Linked DNA regions of Homo sapiens. The protein of the gene in region 1 purifies or fractionates together with the protein of each later gene. This does not show direct contact. Each region holds a gene or a part of one and is shown in the gene's direction. Other genes may lie near its edges.

Evidence for each region.
Region 2: the proteins of POMK (region 1) and ZDHHC6 purify together in Homo sapiens (affinity purification with mass spectrometry; 4 studies listed by BioGRID and IntAct, with this or other methods). This does not show direct contact.
Region 3: the proteins of POMK (region 1) and PIGM purify together in Homo sapiens (affinity purification with mass spectrometry; 3 studies listed by BioGRID and IntAct, with this or other methods). This does not show direct contact.
Region 4: the proteins of POMK (region 1) and GOLGA5 purify together in Homo sapiens (affinity purification with mass spectrometry; 4 studies listed by BioGRID and IntAct, with this or other methods). This does not show direct contact.

The regions. Positions count from the first base shown.
Region 1 is NC_000008.11:43,091,552-43,097,052, forward strand, and holds the start of POMK (protein O-mannose kinase), read left to right. Parts: upstream 1-1,963; 5' UTR 1,964-2,012; intron 2,013-5,501. UniProt on the Homo sapiens protein: Protein O-mannose kinase that specifically mediates phosphorylation at the 6-position of an O-mannose of the trisaccharide (N-acetylgalactosamine (GalNAc)-beta-1,3-N-acetylglucosamine (GlcNAc)-beta-1,4-mannose) to generate phosphorylated O-mannosyl trisaccharide (N-acetylgalactosamine-beta-1,3-N-acetylglucosamine-beta-1,4-(phosphate-6-)mannose).
Region 2 is NC_000010.11:112,436,915-112,440,414, reverse strand, and holds part of ZDHHC6 (palmitoyltransferase ZDHHC6), read left to right. Parts: intron 1-762; exon of another isoform or gene 763-909; intron 910-2,025; coding exon 2,026-2,079; intron 2,080-3,500. UniProt on the Homo sapiens protein: Endoplasmic reticulum palmitoyl acyltransferase that mediates palmitoylation of proteins such as AMFR, CALX, ITPR1 and TFRC.
Region 3 is NC_000001.11:160,024,453-160,028,467, reverse strand, and holds the end of PIGM (GPI alpha-1,4-mannosyltransferase I, catalytic subunit), read left to right. Parts: 3' UTR 1-3,515; downstream 3,516-4,015.
Region 4 is NC_000014.9:92,804,305-92,807,804, forward strand, and holds part of GOLGA5 (golgin subfamily A member 5), read left to right. Parts: intron 1-2,431; coding exon 2,432-2,659; intron 2,660-3,500. UniProt on the Homo sapiens protein: Involved in maintaining Golgi structure. Stimulates the formation of Golgi stacks and ribbons. Involved in intra-Golgi retrograde transport.

The DNA.
Region 1 (5,501 bases):
CTTCACTCCCTCTGAGGGTTAGGAGTTTCCTTTTCTGCTCCACGAGCCAGAATCAGAGGGTTTCTCCCGAGTCTCTGTGTGTGCCCCCGACACTCAGTTCCAGGCTTTGGACTACCTTCAGCTTGAAGATGGGTGACACAACCAGTTTGATGGTGCGTCAAATTCTGCTGTTCTTTTTATTTTTAATTTTTTGTTTGAATTTAATTCCTCTAATTTTTCATCAGTGTTAAAATTTCACCTTTTCCCAGCACCCCCAAAAAGCCTGTGGGCACAAAATGGTGGCCACGTGGCAAAGAACTCAGCAAGGAGAGCTGCTGGTTGGTTTCTATCTTTGTTTGTTTGAGACGGAGCTTTGCTCTTTTGCCCAGGCTAGAGTGAAGTTGTTGGGGAAACCAGCCCCACACCACCCGGCGGGTACCCCGAGTCCAGCGAAGACAAAGGAATTAGAATAAGAGTTTAAAAGGCGGGTCCGGGGGACCGGAGCGTTGGAGGCTTGCTCACGGCCCCGAGCTCTCGGCCTCCACCCAATTTATTGGTGTATATTCACACTGTTGTGCAACCATCACCCCCATCCATCTCCAGGACTTTACCATCTTCTCACACTGAAACTGTGCACCCGTTAGTATTTTTCATGGCTATGTGGATGTAATATAATTTCTTTCAGAAACCCCTATTGTTATACATTCAGGTTTCTTTTTTTCTCTATTATAAATATCTTTTATCAGCAATGCTTCAGCAAGATCTCTTGTGCATACATCTTGCAGACATATTATTTCTTTTTCTTTTTTTTTTTTTTTTTTTTTGAGACGGAGTCTCGCTCTGTCACCCAGGCTGGAGTACAGTGGCGCGATCTCGGCTCACTGCAAGCTCCGCCTCCCGGGTTCACGCCATTCTCACGCCCGCCACCATGCCCGGCTAATTTTTTGTATTTTTAGTAGAGACGGGGTTTCACCGTGTTATCCAGGATGGTCTCGGTCTCCTGACCTCGTGATCCGCCCACCTCGGCCTCCCAAAGTCCTGGGATTACAGGCATGAGCCACGGCGCCCGGCCACAGACGTTATTTCTGAAGGATAAATTCCTAGAAATGGATTTGCTAGGGCACGTAGGAGGAATTCCAATTTACACTCACTTGTATGTGTGAGGAAACTTTCAGACTCTACTGTAACGACAGGAGGTATTACCGCTGTTTGTCCATGTGATAGGCAAACGTTTCTGTTAATTTTAATACTGTTTGGATAGCTAGTACCGGCTCAGTTTTTTTAACCCACACCATGTTACTGTCTTGATTCTGGACTTTCGCAGTGTGTCAGTGTAGAAGCAGCTAACGCTTCCGATGTACACAACCTAGACGTTCCATGACCCAGCTGACTTCGATGCTGCAAGCCTCCCTTTCGGTTTCCCGGAGCAAGCGCCCGAGTGCGTGTTGGGCTCCCGGCAGGGCTCCTGGCCGGCCCTCGACGGACTTCCCCGCCTTTGCCCAGTCCTGCCCCTCCGCGGAGGCTTGCCAAGGTCTTGTCTGCTGCGCTTGATGTGTGCAGCTCAGCTTTACTGCGTCTAGGCTAAGCCCCACAGTTTCTTTTACAGAGCGATTGTCCAACTTCAGGCATCTGGGTCCCCGAGTGGCGGGTCTGGGCCGGAGCTGGGAATCAGCCTTTCCAGCAAGGTCCCTGCAGATGCCGCGGGTCTGAGGACTACGCTTTGGAAGGCCTCGCAGTGCGTCTAGATCTGACAGCTGCTCTGCATGAGCCTGGCTCCAGGCTGAAGCAATAGTCGGTCAACACAAAATCGTTCTCCCAAGTTAGGGAAGCAGAAGCCAGACAGGGAGACTGGGTAGGTGCGCGCTGGTACCGCCGCGGCGTTCGCTCCGGCTTCAGTGCACGGCCGGAGGAGGACGCCAGGGGGCAGCAGCGCCACGCTCACCCGCCCAGGACGCGCTTCCGAACGCGCAAGCGCAGTAGGCCCAGTGCGTGCTGGCCCGGGGTGGCAGGAGCCGCAGAGGCTTGGGCTGCAGGTAGGTGCTGCGGCGAGGGGTGAGAGGGCGAAGGGGCGAGGGGGCGTGCAGCTGGGTTTCCCGGGGGACCCTGTACGTGGCCTGGGCCGCACCCCCCGCAGCCCCGGCCGCCTGCCCGCGGCCTGTCCGGAGGCTCCCTAGGAGGCTGCGCTGGGCCTGAGCGGCCGTGTCCACCGCGCCCAGCCCCTATCTCCGCGTCCACCCCTGCGCGGTAGCGGGACGTTAAAGAACCAGAGAAGGGCCCGGCGAGGTGGCTCCAGCCTGTAATCCCAGCGCTTTGGGAGGCCGAGGCGGGAGGATCGCGTGAGCTCAGGCGAGAGCAGCCTGGGCAACATGGCGGAACTTCTGTCTCCGTAAAAAAGCACTTAGCCGGGCGCGGTGGCGCCGCCTATAGTCTTATCTACTCCGGAGGCTGAGGCGGGAGAATGCTTGAACCCGGCGGGGGCGGAGGTTTCAGTGAGCCGAAATCGCGCCACTGCACTTCAGCCTGGGGGCCAGAGTGAGAGGCTGTTTCTATTATTATTACTTTATCATTATTATTATTATTTGAGACGGAGTCTCGCTCTGTCGCCCAGGCTGGAGTGTAGTGGCGCGGTCTTGGCTCCTGGGATTACAGGCGTCCGCCACCACGCCCGGCTAATTTTTGTATTTTTAGTAGAAACGGGGTTTCCCCATGTTGGTCAGGCTGGTCTCGAACGCCTGACCTCAGGTGATCCGCCCGCCTCTGCCTCCCAAAGTGCTGGGATTACAGGCGTGAGCTACTGGGTCCGGCAGAGGCTGTCTCTGTTTAAAAAAACAAAAACCAAACCAAACCAAAACAAAACAAAAAACAAAAAAACCAGAAAGGACCGAGGACTCTGTCTCAGCTCTTTGCCTTTGGGTGTTTATTCTGCACGAGATCATTGTTGCCAGGAGGTGTTAAGTGTAATCATATTCTCTTTTTTTTAGAAAGCAAAATTTCGCTGTTTTGTTGCATAATCTTGTCTTTGCCACCCTTTGCCTTTGCTATAGAACCTTAAGGCTAAATAAGCGTTCAGAATATTTAAAATAATCCTCTTAATGTACCTTGTGCTTTATTGGCGCAATGGAATTCTACTCTAAACTGTATTGGATGACATTACTCTGTGTCTTCCCTAGTTGTAGAAAATATCTTGTAAGTCGGTAAAAACTAGTTTTGTCCCTTTGCTTTTCTTTTCTTTTTAAGCTGTAAATGTGGAGCAGTGGGTCCCAAGCCTTTCTCTATCAATAAGCCTTCCTATCAGTGTCAGAAATGCTTTGCATTTCAGTCGTGCCTGAATTTCTTCTGCCCAACCTGCCCCACCATCTTTATTCCTTAATGTGCAGGCTGTTTTCAGGACCAGTAAATTTCAGTGGTTTTTGCTTACTTCTGGACACGAAAGTTCCTTTAGCCACACAGCCTCATGCTATGCTCTGGGCGGCCTACTCCAGAATATGCCTGTGAAACAAAAAAGCAAATCGGGGTTGAGGTGGGCTGAAGTCTTCTTTAAGAAACCGGCAGTCCCAGGGTACCCCAGCCCAGCCCCTAGCTGACCACGCTGGGTTTGATTTAGTTCAACTCCCGAGCATTGCGGTATTTAGGGGAAGAATGGGCTTGAGGCCAGAAAACTTGGCTCTTCTGTGTATAGTTCAGTGACCTTAGATATATTACTTCACCTCTGACTCAGTTGTCTTATCTGTGAAATGGGAATAACAACAATTACATCCACTTCACAGAATTGGTGTGAAGTTGACAGTGTATAAAAGTCAAATGAATTTTGGGGTATTTTTTTTATTTGTTTTGTTTTGGTTTGGTTTGGTTTGTTTTTGCCGAGAGAGGATTCAGAAGTGAATGTGAGGACTTAGGGATATATAAAAGGTTTTTGGGGCATATGAAATTTGGATTCAGCAAGAAATGCATTAAAGGTTTTCTGAGTAATGCTGAGGGTCCAAGAGAGATTAGAAAATATGCATTTCTAGAGTCCCACAGAGTTTTGTAGCTGATGTTGGCAGCCTTTGAGTGGAAATGAAGAAGTGGACAGGGCAAGTTACATGGGTCTGGTGAATGACAAGCAGATCTGGGTTTATGATGAAGCCTCTAGCCTCTTCACTTGCACAAATACCTTCCAAAACCTTGCACAAATCCTCTTGCCAAAACTCTGGCAAGAGGCTCAGCACTTTTACATTCATAACTATTCTTCTCTTAAGGAATTACCACTCCTTGCCCCAACTTGTATAAGCTTCAGGCCCCATAAAACCTGAATCCACTAGTGGCAAGGAAGGATTGGTGGGAGGTTAGGGGTAAGGAGGGTTGGAGGGTTGAAAGGATTTATCGCAGGGTTTGAGCTGGGAAACTTGGATTGGAGAAGGAGGTGGCAGATGAGGGTCCTCAGAAGACAGGAGCCGTGAGGAGAGGAAGAGCGGATTCCGTGGAGCGAACACAGGAGAGGGAAAGCAGCCTGTGCGGCTGAGGCCATGAAGAGGGAGAGGTGCAGAGTGACCAGGCAGTTGGTGCGTCTTTGCCGAGTACCCGCTGTGTGCCAGGCACTGGGGTGCAGTGGTGAACAGGACAGGCAGGCAGGCTTCTTGGTGCTCAGAATCTAGAGGAAGCCGGGGCCTGGGTATCCCAGAAAGGGAGCCTTTGAGGAAAGCTCAGGGGCCAGAGAGTGTGGTGCAGGGAGGGTTTAGGGAAGCAGATAGGGGCTAGATTTCAGGAGGCCACATAAGAGTTTGGACTTGATCCTGTGGGCCGAGTGGGGGGCTGTTGAATGTTAAGCAAGGTGGGATCAGATCCGTGCTTTAGAAAGCTCTCCCTGCATGGGCCGGACATGGTGGCTCATGCCTGTAATCCCAGCACTTTGGGAAGCCAAGGTGGGCGGATCACGAGGTCAGGAGATTGAGACCATCTGGCCAACATAGTGAAACTCCGTCTCTATTAAAATACTAAAATTAGCTGGGCATGGTGGCACGTGCCTGTAATCCCAGCTCTGTAATCCCAGCTACTCAGGAGGCTGAGGCAGGAGAATCCCTTTAACAAGGGAGTCAGAGGTTGCAGTGAGCTGAGATTGTGCTATAGCACTCCAGCCTGGTGACAGAGTGAGACTCCTTCTCAAAAAAAGAAAAAAGAAAAAAAAGAAAGCTCTCCCTGCATGTATCAGAGAAACTTCCATGTATGCCTGGGGAGATGTATACACAGCTTGTCTCACTAATTGTGGAAAAGTCAAACCAGTTGAAAATAGTGAACTGAGTTTTGTGCATCTGCATGGATAAATCTCAGAAATGTAATGTTGAGCTTTTAAAAAAAACTGGTTGCAGGAGGATAATACCAGCCCATCACTGTTTGTATAAAGCTTGAAAACATATGTATGATTTATGGGCACATACTTGTGAAAATAAGCATGTATGAGAAGCGGAGTTTGGTAACCCATCCCTGTAGTCAGTCCCAGCTGCTTGGGAGGTGGAGGCAGGAGGATCACTTGAGTCTAGCCTGGG
Region 2 (3,500 bases), on another chromosome or scaffold:
CATTTAGGTAACTAATCTCCTTTGTATTCGTCAGATAATTTTGATTTAATTTTGCCAGAATTTCTAGGTATTGATTTAGTTTTTAAAATGCTAACTTCAAGTTAGGTAAGTTCTGGAGCACTTCAGAATTGAGAGAGCTCTTCTCACCTGTACAGTCTCTCTTGCTCTTCACATCCACCCCAATAGAGGAGTCTTACTGTTTTCCCTTCCCAACACGTGATTAATTCATTGATTCTCAAAAAGGTTAAGTGACTTACCCAATGTCACCCATTCATGTACTTGGTAAACATTTTCCCTTCCCGACAGATGATTAATTCATTGATTCTCAAAAAGGTTAAGTGACTTACCCAATGTCACCCATTCATGTACTTGGTAAACACTAATGTTATTTTATAATAGTATATATTTAATAATAGTAATCATAATATAGCTAACATTTATTGAGCACTTATTATGTGTAAGGCACTGTTTTAGGCACTTTACATGTATTAGCTCATTTAATCTCCATAACAGCCCTATGATAAAGATGCTATTTAAAGCCTACTCTGATGAATCACTTTGCTAATTTCTAAGGCTGCATAAATGATAATGAAGAGGTAGCTGCCCTTAGGAACTGACAGTTAATATTAAACAGTTAACTAATACAGGGCCATATGTACATCATAGATTTATGTGCACAGTGCTATGAGAACACAGAGGAGGAGGACCTGGCTCTGAAGGGACCAAAAACCATTCTTTTTCATTCTTTTTTTTTTTTTTTTTTTTTTTTTTTTTTTTTTTTTTTTTAGACGGAGTCTCACTCTGTCACCCAGGCTAGAGAACAATGGCGTGAACTCAGCTCACTGCAACCTCCGCCTTCCGGGTTTAAGCAGTTCTCTGCCTCAGCCTGCCAAGTAGCTGGGATTACAGGTACCTGCCACCACACCCGGTTAATTTTTGTGTTTTTAGTGGAGACGGGGTTTCACCATCTTGGCCAGGCTGGTCTTGAACTCCTGACCTTGTGATCCACCCACCTCAGCCTCCCAAAGTGCTGGGATTACAGGTGTGAGCCACTGTGCCCGGCCCAAAAACCATTCTTATGACTTATTGCATTCACGTAATTCATTCATTCATTCATTGAAGGCCTACTGTGGGCCAGGTATTATGCTAGGCCCTTGGAATATGATGAGGACTCCTGGGCCAAGGCTGTTTATTTTTTTATTGTTGTTTGTTTGTTTGTTTGTTTGTGACAGAGCCTGGCTCTGTTGGCCCAGGCTGGAGTGCAATGGCACGATCTCGGCTTATTGCAGCCTCCACCAAGGCTGTTTCTAACATACTACACTGTCTCTCTGAAGGCACAGCCAGACTTTAAGGGAACTCTTGGTTTTAAAATAATCTGGTTTTGTTTATACTTTATTATCGTCTACTAGCCTGGGACCAAATTCTTTGAAAAATTTTCCCCAATGCCTCTAATTTAGAATCATATTAGAAATAAACTAAGATCCTATAATATAAAAGCCTATATATGTGGAATCAGTCATATCTAGGAAAATCAAATAATAGAATAAAGACTGAATACATTCATTATTTTTAAGGCAAGTGAAATATTGAGGTTGACTGAAATGAGTCACTGTTACTTCTCATAAATAGATTAATCGTAAATTTAAAGTTAGTTAAAAATAGTGATAAAAGATTTTAATAGCAAATTATAAGTAAGCACTGATTAAATGGATTATATCAATGTTTTATTAAACCTTGCTCTGAAAATAGTACTTATGACATAAAGTTTGATTAACATACTAGATTCAGATTTGATTATGGATGGGTGTAATCATTGTTACGGAGAGGTACCGTGGTGCAGTAGTTAAGAACAAGGACTTTGGAGTCAGACGGATGACATGGTAATTGTGGTACTTAACCTCTGTTATCCTTGGTATCTTTGTCTATGGAATGGAGTAATAAAAGCTATCTCAGAGAATTATGAATATGATAATCTTAAAGGAACCAAGGTCGCATTATTAAATTTTACTATCATTTAATTTCCAGATGAAAATAATTCTCAGAAACAAAACTTCTATTGAGTCATGGATTGAAGAGAAGGTAAATTTTAATAATTGTTTCTTCAATATTAAAAAAGTATATTAATAAAGGACTGGTAAAGTCCTGAATATTAATAAAGTCTGTTATTAGACCGGATTAACGAAAAGTGCCTAAAAGTGAAAACATGGCTGCCAAATGGCTACCGTAAGTCATTTGCATGCCACATAAAAGGTGAATATAGGAAACATTTTTGTTCATTCTGTAACTCCCACAGAAAGGTGCTTCTCATACACCCTGAGTGGTCGCAGAGGCCTAAGCCACACGTCAAACCATCTGTTTGTTGTCTCTTAGACTAGAGGAGAAAGCAGCCCATTTGGAAAGGAGCTTCCACCCTACCAAACTGCCATCAGGTTTTTCTCAGTGTTTTAGACATTCAATGAAGCTCCTAACATTTTGCTTGTCACAGACCTCACAATGTCCAATACTTCATACTGTCCATTGTGATTCTAGCATGAAACACAAATCTGACTACCCTGCTCTGTGTTTAAAACTTCTCAGAGCCTCACCATTCCTGTGGCAGGGGTTGAAACCCAAATACCTGCAGGGTCTGGGCAGATAACGTCCATGAAGGGGAGCAAGCCTGTATACCAAAGAATTGCCTGGCAGACCAAGCTGATTGTTGCCACAGGGGAATATTCACAATTTCCAAATTACAAAATAGGGAGAAGAATAGCATCGTTTTATATCTTTACAAATCTCTTTAGTATCTTTGACTTAAGAGAAGATGGTTGGATTCTCACTTCTGCATTCAGTCTGTTGAGATATGTTGCTTCGATTGAAGTATGTGAAGATCTAGCCTCACACAGATAAGTAGGTAGAAAAGGATAGAATATTTTAATAGGCCTTTTACATGATAATAGTGGATGTTCTTCCGTATTACATTGAAAACTTGACAAGTGATATTTCTTATCAATAAGATTTTTATACCTTTTTATTTTAAAACTCATCAGTCTATCTTGCTCTTTGAATTAATCTTTTACCAGTATGTGGTTTTATGTAACATCAGGCATCGGTCATTTGGCAAATACTAGTTTACTGTGTTATGTAGATTTTGCAAACGTTAAACACCTTTCATTATACAATATCCCAAAATTGCATTCACGTATATCAATATATCATTTTTATGAGAAAAAATCCTTAAGTATTGGAAAGCTGTCAGGCTCACAGTGGTAGATACAAGGTTTTTTTTTTTGTAATTCTAGTATACATTTGAAAGCCTTAATTTTTTACTATTAACCCATACTGTCAGTCATTTCCCTTGAAGTGACTGCCTGACTGTTCGTTTTTGAGAAAATGTTCACCAAGTCCTGAAGTCTGAATAACCTTAGTTTGCTATATTACTCATTCTTTCAAATAAGAATAGTGTTACATTAAAAAAGCTGGCTCTACAGCTTTTGTTAGCTTACAGCTTAACAACTATT
Region 3 (4,015 bases), on another chromosome or scaffold:
TTTGGGGTAAAAATAGCAGAGTCAGTTGCTGAGGACAATGACCTTCCTTATAACATTTAGTTTCATACCCATATTAGGTCTTGTCTTGAGGACCCTTTATATGTGCTTGTTTACTAGTGGCCTTCCAGCCATAGCATTCTTACCTTTTTTTCCTATTCTAAGAATTAAAAAAAAAAATTATAGAGCCAGCAAGGGAGGAGGCAGGAAACAGAAATCGAATTTCATCATTCCAGTATAGTTGTCCCTTTTTTTGTATTTCTGACTTGGTTTTATAATTATATTTACTTACTAATTATTGTTTTTTAACATTCTTTATTGTGGCTTACTCTTCATACTTAGAATTGAAATTGTTGGACATCACATGTATATTCACATTATAAATACATCATTCTTCCACTGTTAGACCTTTAGATTGCTTCCAGTTTTTAATATTCTAAATAAGACTTTCAACATTTTCTGTGTTTTAGCTCATTCTCTTAGGACATTCTTAGAAGTTAGAAACATTTCTGCTGGGATCGTTGGAGGGAACTTCAAACTTTGGAATCTTTCCTGCAAGAAATTCTTTACCAAAGAAAGGCAGGTGTTTCTTAAAGGGATGCAAAAGATATTTTGCACTTTGTATGTTCCAAAACATTTAGTAAGTTAACTAAAAAAATGAGTTAATTTGGTTTCTTGGGGGATTTTAATTTTTTAATTTGTTTTCTGGTTATGTAAAAAAAATGTTTTTTTTTTGCTTCTTATCACAATCCTTTTGTTTCCTTTTTAATCCTTTAATAACACCTTCAAATTTTATAAGACTTTGGCTTATTTCCTATATAATTCTTTTTTTCTTATACCACCTCTTAAGATTGATATGTTCATTTGCAGGTAAGCATTAATTATTAGATAAAGAGGGATGATTCTCAAGATTGTGTGTGTTCTGAACAGAGGGAACTACATGACATTTTCTTCTGTAATTGCCTTTGTAACGTCTTTAGAATGTGGTTCCTAAATATTCCTGGATAAATTCTCTTGATAGGCCCATTGGAAAGGCTAATACTCCCACCCAGTGCTTTGTTCCTTCCTGGCAAAAGAATTCCTAAAACCACTGATTTTAGTTACTGACTTCTCACCATCTGGACTCTTACAAGATGTTTCAGAAGTTGTGTAGAACTTGTCTTTCAGTTGACTTGTGGCTGAATTTACTGTTACTTCTCTAATATCAGTTGTTTTCTGCATTACCACCCTCTCCCCTAACCATCTGTACTATGAATGGAAAAGGAAAAAGATGGAAAAATTATACCTAGGATTGTCCCTAAATGCAACCTCTTGGTTCCCCCCACCCCTCATGTTTTATTATAAACGATTTTAAGAGCTGGGCATGGTGGTTCATGCCTATAATCCCAATGCTTTGGGAAGCTGAGGCAGGAGGATCACTTGAGGACAGGAGTTTGAGACCAGCCTGGACAACATAGTGAGACCCCCATCTGTACAAAAAAAAAAGTGCTACTTGGGAAGCTGAAGTGGGAGGACCACTTGAGCCCAGGAATTCGAGGAGGTTATAGTGAACTATGATTGTGCCACTGCACTCCAGCCTGGGTGACAGAGCAACACCTTGCCTCTAAAACAAACAGCTCCAACTATTTTATTTTTTTATTTTTCTGAGACAAGATGTTGCTTTGTCACCCAGGCTGGAGTGCAGTAGTATAAACATGGCTCACTGCAGCCGAACTCCCAGGCTCAAGTGATCCTTCCTCCTCAGCCTCCCAAGTAGCTGGGACCACAGGTATTTGCCACCATGCCTGGCTAATCTTTATTTTTTGTAGAGACGAGGTCTTGCTATGTTGCAAGAGGGAGATCACTTAAGTGATCTTCCCTCATTGGCTTCCCAAAGTGTTGGGATTCCAGGCGTGAGCCACTGCACCCCGCCTGACCTAACTATTTTAAACACTACTCATATTGCCATCATCTAAATTCAACAACAATTTGCCATATTTGCTTTATGTATATGTATAATTATATATTTATAAAATTTTTTGAACCATGTGAAGTTGCAAACATCATTGAACTTCACCACTAAATATATCAGCATGCATCTCCTAAAAATCAGGTATTTTCTTACAAAACCATAATTCTGCTATCTATTATGATTTAACATTCTGTCATTTTCAAATTTCTTCAGGTGTTTTTTGTTACATCTTAAAGAACAGACGTTCTTGGATCTCAAAGATTCCGAGGAAGGAAAGAACATGGTGGATAATCCATAATTAAGAAGTTTGAATCTTTTCCTAGTCTTAAAAACAAAGTGAGAACTAAAGGGGTTTACCTTCCATCAAAGTTGAACAAATTAATTCTTTTGTGTGTCATACTTTCTGTCTCTCTCCCTAAAAACATGGGGGTGGTAATCTCTTTGTTTTATCTGGTAGGTTTTCCAGATAAAAGATTATACAGGTTTGGAATCTTAATATCCAACCCCCAACTCCAAGCCCTGCCCCAACAACAACAGCTAATTATTTTACATCTTGATGATGGTAAATTTTTCATGATTAACCAATTTTGGGCACCTATTCCGCCATATATGGTTTTATTTAATTTTCACAGCAACACTTCAAAGTTGATATTCATATTCTAAATTTATAGATGAACGAAGAGGCTCAAAGATTAAACAACTTGCTAATAAGTGATTTTTACCCATGCTTTTTCCATTATATTATGTTTTGGATTTTTCCAGAGTACCCAAACCCAGCAGATGCATACTGCTCCAAAATAAATGGAACTCAATACTGGCTCTGTCAAGTGTCTCTTGCCAATCAATTGTCCTTCTAATCTTTTGAGGGGCAGTTCTCTCAGTTGTACCAAGTCACTGTCATCCCCAAACTTTTCAATGATTCCAGGCCTTTAACAACTCCCCTCCACCTCCAAACCCTCTCTCACCAAATTGTGTAATTTCTTTGTTTACTGCTGGCTTCATCATGCACTTTTCCTTCATAGCCTATTTTAAGAAGTTGATTTGCTGAACTGCTTTTTAGCCAAGCTATTTGTAAATCAAGCTACACAAAGTATGTGGCCATAATTTCCAAAAGGCAAATGATCATTGTTCAATTGCTGTTGCTCTGCAGTGTGCATTCATGCAGTTAAAAATTGTACTGCATTGATAGTACGGCATCAGAGAATAGATCACTTAGGTTCAAATCCCAGTGCATGATCCTGAGCAAGATTATCATATCTAGATACATTAGTTTTTATCTGTGAAATGGGAATGATAGCACAATCTTCATAGAATTGTTGGTAAGGATTAAGTGAGTTGATATGCTCAAAGTGTGCATGCTGGCATAGAACAAGTCACTGTTTACAAGCCTTTAAAGAAGGAGCTGTTCTGGCACTGTAAACTTGAACCTTTTTTCCCCAAATCTAATGGATATAGGCAAGGAAATTATATTTATATAAAATAAATGTTTGACTACCTTTGATCATAAACTTTATTCTCATCTTGACCTGTTCCTTTGAAAAGATAATAAATACTGATATGTGAAAAATGTATGGACAGATTATTCAGATGTCTGGTTGAGGCTTTACAGTTTTGTATATTTCTGTCAGACATTAAGCTGACTCTAAGCAGTGGAGGTTTGGTTTATGCCCCTAAATTACACAGCACTTCTTTTCTCCATTGTATCGAGGGGTCATTCAGGGGTTGCTGTTCTGGAGATGGAAGCACATGTCTCCTGCCTGGGTCAGAAGCGTCACAATAGCACAAGCATTTATTCAGCACTGGCCTAGGAGAACCATTCATTTAGTCAAAACAAGCATTTATATTCATTATCCTGAACAAAAACCAGACTAAATGAGAACATTTATAGCTGCTCAGGCACTCTGCTAATTGCTATGTCTGCTAGACAAAGTGAAATGACACTTACAGTGACTATTTAAAAATAATTTGGAGCATGAATATTTGAAGCTCAGTTCTTTTTACAAAGGAAATGTATAACCTTTGCTCTTCATTTTTTTTGGCAGTTATTTATAGATCCAGGCCCTGTGT
Region 4 (3,500 bases), on another chromosome or scaffold:
GTCCTTTCTCCTCGGCCTCCCAAAGTGCTGGGATTACAGGCGTGAGCCACCACGCCTGGCCTACTTCATTTCTTTTTAAAATCTTTATTTTAGAAATTTCAAACATACCAAAATAGAACGTAATGACCTCCTATTATCCAACTACAGTAATCACTCATGGCCATTCATGTTTCATTTATACCCTCCCATTTCCCATCACTTTCTTCACCTGCACCCTCCGCACAATTAATTTGAAGCAAATCACAGATCTTATATCATTTTTTCTATAAACATTTCATTTTCTTACTCTAAAAATACTCTAAAAGCAAATGTTCACACCATTATCACCTTAAAAATGTAATAATTTCTTTCTTTTTTTTTTTTTTTTTTTGAGACAGGGTCTCACCTTTTGCCCAGGCTGGAGTGCAGTGGTGCAGTCTCAGCTCATTGCAACCTCTGCCTCCCAGGTTCAAGCGATTCTCCTGCCTCAGCCTCCGAAGTAGCTGAGATTACAGGCACCCGCCACCATGCCCAGCTAATTTTTAGTAGAAACAGGGTTTCACTATGTTGGCCAGGCTGGTCTCAAACTCCTGACCTTGTGATCCGCCTGCCTCAGCCTCCCAAAGTGCTGGGATTACAGGCGTGAGCCACCACGCCCTGCCAACACTCCCATTTTTAAGTCACGTCTTAGGTGCCCATTCCCTACCCCACTTGATTATTAGCTTTTTGTGGTTATTTTTTCTTTTAGGTAAAATGTACATATATTAAGATGCACACAAATCTTAGCTATATGACGAATGGCAATACCTGTGTAACCCACACCTTTACCGTGTTATAGATTTCCTTTGCCCCAGAAAGTTCCTCATGTTCCTTTCCACTTAATCTCCTCACCCCGTCCCTGAAAGCACCCAGTGCTCTGATTTTTCTCTCCTTAGTTTTGCTTGTTCTAAAACTTCATATAAATTGAATCATATAGTATATATACTTTCTAATCTGGCTTCTTTTACTGAACTGTTAGTGAGATTCATCCATGTTACTGTTCTTTTTTTATTCTGTTTTATTATGTAGTACTCTATTATACGGCTGTACCACAGTTTATCTATTCTCTTTTATGGACATTGGGTTTGTTTCCAGTTTTGGATTATTGTGAATAAAACTGCTATAAACATTTTTGTACTTGCTTTTTTGTGGGCAAATGTTTTCATTTCTCTTGTATAAATACCTAGGAGTGGAATTGCTGGGTGAAACGGTAGCTGCATGTTTAATTTCATAAGAAATTGTAAAACCTTTTCCCCCAGTGATTGTACCATTTTATAGTCCCACCAGCAGTGAGAGGTCTAGTTGCTCTGCAGTGTCACCAACATTTGGTGTTTTTAATTTTAGCCATTCTAGGGGGTGTCTGTTGGTTCTCATTGTGATTTTAATTTGCATTTCCTTGATGACTAAACATGTTCAGAACTTTTTCATTTGATTATTGATATTTGTTTATATAACCTTATAAAGTATCAAGTCTTTTACCCATATACTGATTGTTTTAGTCAGTTTTATTATTTAGATATATAGTTCATTTTCATCACATAATTTTTAGAGTAATTTAAAAGTATACTTGCATTATATTTAGTAACAAAAACAAGATTAATCTGAATTCATGTGTCTCTATCTCTTTGGGTAAGACATGTTAGATTCCAGTTTGATTAAAAAAAAAAAACAAAAAACCTTGTAGTGACCTGTTATTACTCTTCTTGCCTTGAAACCTGCAGCTACTCTATTGTGCCTTCCCAATTTTTCAGTATTTGAGACTTCTCCTGGTTTTTTTTCCCAAAAGCATTTTGGAGACAAAAGGAAATCCAAACCCATTTTACCTGAACCCAACCACTCACATGATCTCTGATGTTCTCCCCAGAATGGTGTTGTACTGTCTGTTGTCATTCATTCAGTGTATCCAGACTTGAGTATCCTTAGAGGTCCATATGCCCCATTTATGAGAATGAAATTTAATCAGAGGGAAGACTATTGAAAATTTGTTTATTTATGTATTTTTTTTGAGATGGAGTCTCGCTCTGTTGCCCAGGCTGGAGTGCAGTGGTGCAATCTTGGCTCACTGCAACACCTTTGGCCTCCCAGGCTCAAGTGATTCTCCTGCCTCAGCCTCCTGAGTAGCTGGCACTACAGGTGTGTGCCACCACACCTGGCTAATTTTTGTATTTTTGGTAGAGATGGGGTTTCACCGTGTTGGTCAGGCTGGTCTCAAACTCCTGACCTCAAGTGATCTCCCTGCCTCGGCCTCCCAAAATGCTGGGATTACAGGCATGAGCCACCGCGCCTAGCTGAGAATTTACTTTTTATGGTGTTTTAGCTGTAGCAGTCAACTTGAGCATCCTACCAAAGCAAGTTGTTAATGCATATGTGATGAACACGCCAATGTAACAAAAACGTATTCTTTTTTTTACAGAAGCTGCCAGTAACTCAGATTCTAGCCATGAAGGTCAAGAGGAATCTTCAAAGGAAAATGTGTCATCAAATGCTGCCTGCCCTGACCACACCCCAACACCTAATGATGATGGCAAATCACATGAACTGTCTAACCTTCGACTGGAGAATCAGCTGCTGAGGAATGAAGTTCAGTCTTTAAATCAAGAAATGGCCTCGTTACTCCAAAGATCCAAAGAGACTCAAGAAGGTAGAGGCTTAAATTGTTCAGGATTAGGAATTTAACTTTTAAAAATAAACTTAAGGCTGGACGCAGTGGCTCGTGCCTGTAATCCCAGCACTTTGGGAGGCCGAGGCGGGCGGATTGCCTGAGGTCAGGAGTTCAAGACCAGTCTGGCCAACATGGTGAAACCCTGTGTCTACTAAAAATACAAAAAAATTAGTCAGATGTGGTTGCAGGCACCTGTAATCCCAGCCACTCAGGAGGCTGAGGCAGGGGAGTTGCTTGAACCAGGGAGGTGGAGGTTGCAGTGAACCGAGATTGCACTACTGCACTCTAGTCTGGGCAGCAGAGCAAGACTCTATCTCAAAAATAAATAAATAAAAATAAAATAAAATAATAAACTTAAAAACTTTAAACTGTTAGAAATATTTACATTTAAACTGTGAGAAATTAGATGCGACTTGTAAAATGATATTTTCATAGAAAAACTGCCCAGATTTGGAAATGGGACCAGTCATCCTCCCACCAACCCAAAACATAAGAGTATTCGCTTCTTTGGTCATCCTTTAAGAACCATGAAATTGAAGAACTGAGAGGAACAAACTAGTAGTAGTCTAGTTCATTCATTTATTCTGAACTTTCAAGGGAAGCTGTTCCATTAAACAAAGTAGTAGGCACTAATAGAGTTGCAGTGTTGCTGCTCTAGGGCATATAAAAGGTACATGGAATTCAGTTCAGTGCCCTTGGGAATTGTGCAGTGAGGTGGCCCTGGAGTAGAAAACCTCAAGTTCCTCAGAAATAGGTAATTAAGAAGGAAATAATCTCATTATGGAGGTAGTGACTGAGGAAGATGTGAATGTTATTGTAA